2 separate regions of the Homo sapiens genome follow, and region 2 is linked to region 1. The links come from fine-mapping of genetic effects on gene expression. Tissue or cell type: pancreas. Region 1 holds a variant in brackets; the other region holds the start of a gene. All regions are shown on one strand. Distances are between the middles of the regions.

What was found. PIP is the estimated chance that this variant, and not a neighbour inherited with it, causes the effect.
Region 2: it holds the start of RIMBP2, and the variant in region 1 is fine-mapped to the expression of RIMBP2 in pancreas (GTEx, PIP above 0.99). The same link has a PIP of 0.9 or more in lung.

What each region holds. Positions count from the first base shown.
Region 1 is chr12:130,631,191-130,633,945 of GRCh38, reverse strand. All of the region lies in intron 1 of RIMBP2 (RIMS binding protein 2), which reads left to right. Among named protein-coding and RNA genes, the nearest start is that of RIMBP2, 84 kb to the left of the region's middle. RefSeq lists an enhancer at 1-41. The variant C/A (reference allele first, on the strand shown) is at 1,274.
Region 2 is chr12:130,715,061-130,717,815 of GRCh38, reverse strand. RIMBP2 (RIMS binding protein 2) reads left to right here and starts at 1,517. Exons shown (of 23, transcript NM_001393629.1): 1 at 1,517-1,594.

The sequences.
Region 1 (2,755 bases):
GTAAATAGCCTTCCAGCCTGGTGCCGAGCACAAACATCCGAGGCTCAGAGAGGCTGGCGTCCACGGGGACCGGAAGGGGGGCCGGCGGGGAGGCCTGGACCAGTCTGTCTGGTCCACTAGACCACTAATCTCCGGTGCCTTGTAAGTACCTGCTTCTGGGGCTGGGGAAAGAGCCCCGTGGGTTAATGAGATACAGCTTAGACACAGACGGGAAATCAATCTCTTTCTAGGCTGTGGGCTGTAGAGCAAGGGTTGTTTTCTGGGCTGAGAGGTGGGAAGAGGCATTTCCAGCCTCAAGGGGTTGTGATAACCCCTGGTTTCTAAACCTTTGGGTCTTAATTGTGGCTCAAATCACTGTTACTACCCTGTGGGTATGCTGTTCCAAATCTGTCCTCAGGCCTTGTATCAGGCTAGAAAAGACCCTTGGTCTCGAGGATCAGTTTCGGTGGGCTGTGGGCGGGACACTCGGGATAGGATGTGGTTCAGGAGGAAAGGCAAGGGCTGGGTGTCCGGTTATTTGTCCCTCCAACTTTCCTCCCTCAGGAATTCACCGTTCTGGTGGGAACAGTTTGGTTTTGCTAGTTTAAGCATCACAGAACTGGCATTAGAAACAGCATCCATTCAAAGTTGTGAAATCTCAAGTGGAAATTCCTACTCTGTATTCAATTTTTGTGCAACATTTTCAATTCTTTGAGCTCAAATGATGAGACAAAGTTGAACACCCTTTAGATAATGAATATACTCAGACAATAGATATAATTGTAGCATTTTAATTTCATGTAGGTCCGCTGTTAGTTGAAATATACAGCAAAACGTGAGGGTGCTGACTCTGGCTTAAGACCTGGGGGGTTCTTTTTTTATTCTATGTAGCGAGGACCTTGTAGTAAACAGATGAAATGAACTGCGTCTATGCCTAACATTAAATAGCAAGAACTGGCTCCTCCCTCCTGGCAGAAGGCATGATCCTGTGCTCCGTGAGGAAGATGTTTATGGGGCAGAGCAGGTGGCCGGTGTTTTATGTGTCCTGGTGTTCCACGGCAGCAGTAAAACGTACATCAATGAATCATTGTTTTTGTTTTCCTCTCTGCCTAAATGGCTCTGTTAATTAAAACTTTGTGTAAAGTGGTCTTCAAGCTCTGTACTCAATTTTACATGGGCTCATTAGGGTTGGTTATGCACAGCCCCACAAATCCTTTAACTTGCTGGACCACTTTTGAATTAATAATTAACATACTTCACATGTAACCATACAGAGTAGTTTTTTATGCCCTAT[C/A]ATCATTAGCAAGCTCTCCAGTCAGCCTGGTGAGATATTAAAGCCCCTTAGCCTCTTTAACGATGGAGTAGGCCGAGCCGAGGACAGGAGGGGCCCCAGAGCAAAGAGAACAGGGTGGTTGAAAAAGCACATCCCGGCAGCCCAGGAAGATGAGGGGAGAAAGCGGTAGGTTTACTTGTTCTGTACGGAGGGCACCGACCTGCACTAAATGCATTGAGAAGCCAGGAATCATTGCCCCACCCCCCAATTTTTTCTTCTGTAATAGAACTAGAAAAAAAAAATGTACATCACTTGCAGATTATCGTGACTTCCTGTAATCTCGTTTTTTCATGTTATTCTTAATGATTTCTCTGAGAGAACATGATTCCTTAGAGGAGCAGAATAGGATGTGTGTTGGTGGAGGTAAGGATTTGGGGGTTTGCACTAAAAGGAGGTAGTCAGCAATGACGACGATGTGCCTCTGCCTGCAGGGATCTCACTGGAGGTGTCTGCCTTGATTTGTTTGCATCCAGCCCATCTGATCTGGTTAGAAACGTCTCTTTTATTTTTTGCTGAAATCGTCCCACGATGAAGTAGGTGGACCAGTGGTGTTACATCAGTTGATTTTAGGAGATGTATAGATTTTTAAAAATGTTTTTATGTGATAACTATTTGTTTCATGTAGTTTAAAGAAAAGACATGGGCATATCAAGTAAGTTAATGTGATAGTATAAGGTTTCCTTTGAGAAAGATTTGTGGAGGAAGACTTCAGTGAGTTCCCAAGCCAGACACAAGCATGCTTTCTTTTGTGCTGCAACAGTAGTTTATAACTTGAAAGTGCATGCATGTAATTTGAAAAATTAAGTGTATAAAGGTATATGGAAACAATCTCGTGCTGTCTCTTCTTTCCATACCCAGTCCCTTGAGCCCACTTTCAATACTTTTAGTGGTTTCTTCTTGAAGCTCTTAAATAATAGTAAAAATTGCCAATATTGTAACTTTTTTTTTTTTTGACTTACCAGTTTTCCAAAGTAAAAAAATATTAGCAGCACTTTCTGGGGTGGTAGATAAGTGGTTCTCAAAGGGCTTTGAGCGGGCAGTTTTGCCTTTCAGGGTTGGCGTTGGGAGACACTTCTGTTTGTCATGATTCAGGGAAACGTGTGTGCTACTGGCCTCTGGTTGCTACTGGCAGGGATACTGCTAAACACCCCATAGTGCACAGGACAGCCTGCACAAGGAAGAATTACCTGGCCCCAAATGTCACACTGCTGAGTTTAAGAAGCTCTGTGGTAAATGAAGATTTAGTTATCTTAGTTTCCCTCCCCCAGTCTATACACATAGTTAAATTGCTACTTTATTTAAGTGAATACTTAGTTGTTACGTTGTTATTGTGTGTATATTGCTAATGGTAGCACCAATTAGTGACTGTGGTTACATCCCTTTCGTTGTATGGCTTTTTAGTTTTCCTGGAGTTATTAATAGCCTGATTTTCAATTGTGCCAT
Region 2 (2,755 bases), 84 kb before region 1:
CCTTCCACGATTTTCTGCAGTCTTGTAGTTTCTGTGACCTGATAACTCTGCTGCAGGGTGAAAAGGAATCATCTGTGGTTTGCCACCTACTCCTGGATACAGCACGTATCTCTTTGTTCCATGCACAGAGGCTGGGGCCACTCTACACGGGGCTTGAAAGAAGCCTCCAGTCTTGCAGCCAAATTCAGAGGCATATAATTCAGAAGCCTATCCGGGAGGCCAAAATGAGTCCTGACTGGGAAAACTCGCTGGACCCGTCTGCCACAGTGTTGAAAAAGTTGTCTTGGGAAGAGGTTTCCTCTGGCTGTCTAGGTTTGAGACCTTTGCGATTCCTTTAAGATCACAAGCAAAACCACGGTGATGGTAGGATGTGTTGGTTTTACTAAGGAGCCCATTTTTTAAAAAACTTGTAAAGTGAGCCTTAATTGGAGAAGCAACAGAAAGCACCTCGGGACAAGTCCTTCCTTTTTGTACAAAGGACCCGTGGTGAGCCCTTCCTTGGAATTCTCGTGTCCTACACTCGAGTCTTGTCCCTGCACAGGGCCATCATTAGTAGGAGCCCTCAGAGCCTCAATTAGGGTATGTGGAGCCCAAAATACCAAAGGGGCTTTCCTCCGCATGAGCTATCTTATTCAGCACCTTTCAGTAACAAGCCATGGGATTTTTACCCCAGGGAAGGAAGCAAGTGTGTGAAGTCCGTGCGTGTTTCCCAGGGTTTTTTCCCTCCTGCACCACCCGGTTGCTAGGTAGCGGGTATATCTGTGCCACCACCTGAAGTTCTGTGGGAAGGGGGAATCTGCGGGGCCACTGGAGGCTTGGGGTGGGGAGGGGAGCCGGACAGGAGAGCAAAGACCCAGGCAGCTTGGGTCGCTCCTCTTCATCACTTAATTCTGAGGGCGCTTGAGTTTCTGAGCTTCCTGGAGTAGAGCCCAGGGCAGCTTTTACTTTGATGTGCTGATCGGTTGCCTGTCGGTTGCAGGAGACCCCCGGCCTCCTGCAGGGAAGATCCTGTGCTGTTTTCCCAGGGATGGAGAGAAAAGCACCAACCCCAAGCCCCGCATGGCTGAGAGCTGTTTGCCTCCATCTCTGTCCGAGCTTTTCACCACAGCTCTGTGAAAGAAACTGGCAGTGAGGGGTATAGCCATCTTGGTGTGTGTATGCGCACGTGTGTGTGCATGTGTATTTGTGTGTGTGTGTGTGTGCGTTCAAACACTGACGTTTCAGAGGCTCTGGTTACTGCTGCATGGCGGATGATCCTCTCTCTCTCCCTCTCTCTCCCTCCCTCTCTCCCTCTCGACCTGCTTGCCTGCCTGCAGAAAACTAATGAATCATGTCTAGCTGAATGCAAGCAGTGCAGACACACCAATGCCCTGCAATGTTGACTGGGCGCCGCCTCTGCCTGCCTCTCGCTCCCTGTCTCTCCCTCTGCTGCTCCCTCCCTCCCTCTCTCCCTCTCCCCCTCCTCCCTCCCTCCTTCTCTCCCTCTCCCCCTCCTCCCTCCCTCCGTCTCGCCCCCAGTTTGTAATCTGACACAGTACACTGCAGTTGTCTCCGAGGTGAACCTCCGGAGCCTTGGCACAGCTCGCTTCTAAAGGTAGGCTGAGATTTATTTTTTTCTCCTAAAAATAGCTTCCCGTCTCCCCTCGCCTTTCTGCACCCGAGCTGCAGCGGCGTTGATCACAGGGGGTTAGCCGGAAACTCTTTGCCCAGACAAAGTTTATCTTGCAGCGGATGGAGAATGCCCTTCAGCGTGGGGTCCGGGGGCGCTGGGTGCGGGGAGCAGCGGCTCGCCCTGCTGGCATGTCGGTGCTGCTTGGAATTCAGGATCGTCTCGGAAGGGAAGGGCTGACGGGCTTCTTCCTGGGTGCCGGGTGTCAGCTGCAGGGGTGCTGTGGCTCTGTCATGGCCCCCACCCCAGGCTTTTAAGAAAGGCCCCTCCAGGCAAAGTTTGGCACCCGATGGACACGGCCCCGCTCGCCTGGGGAGTGCGCCCCAGGCTTCTCAGACAGCAGCGGCTCAGGGCCTGGACTTGTCTTCTTGGGGGCGGGGTGGAGGGGGGGAAGGGGACGTGGGACAAACACATCAGAGTCCCCAGCTCGGCTCAGGTGCAAATGCACAAAGCCCGCAGGCTGCGCCCAGGAATCTGTCAATTCACGTCCCATGGACTGACTTGAATAATGTGTTTGTCAAAACAGATGTTCCCCGGCAGAGTGTGTGCGTGCATGCGTGTGCCTGTGTGAGCAGTGTGCGCGGGCTGCTGGCCGGGGGCAGACTCTCCCAGTGGAAACCGTATTTCACCGGGAAAGGCAGCGCGTACGGGACCACCCGCCCAGGAGCTTAGGTCTGGGTAGGTCCAGGTGGGGGCCCGGACATCTGTCAGCAGAGGCCTCGGTGGAAGCAGCCTCCCTCCTGTCCCCGGGGAGCGCACGCTGGCTGAGGTCGGGGTGGCGGCTGGCCGGAGGGAGGGAGGACTGCTTCACCTCCCGGCCTGGTCACTGGCCCCGGGGGAGGCGGGGGTGCTGGCTCCGTGCCTGCGTGGCCTCTGGGTCCCTGGAGGTTCTTAGGGTGAGTGAGGAGGGAGGGAAGGGGACCCTGTCCAGCCCCATATTTCTCTCACGGAGGAGCCCTGAAGGAGACTCTGCTCACAAGGGTGAAAACCCCACTTCGTCCAGGGAAGGGAAATGTCACAGATGGAGCAGGCCTGAGAGGAGGGAGAGCGGCTCCCTCTGAAAATGGAAGATCGGTGGGAAGAGGA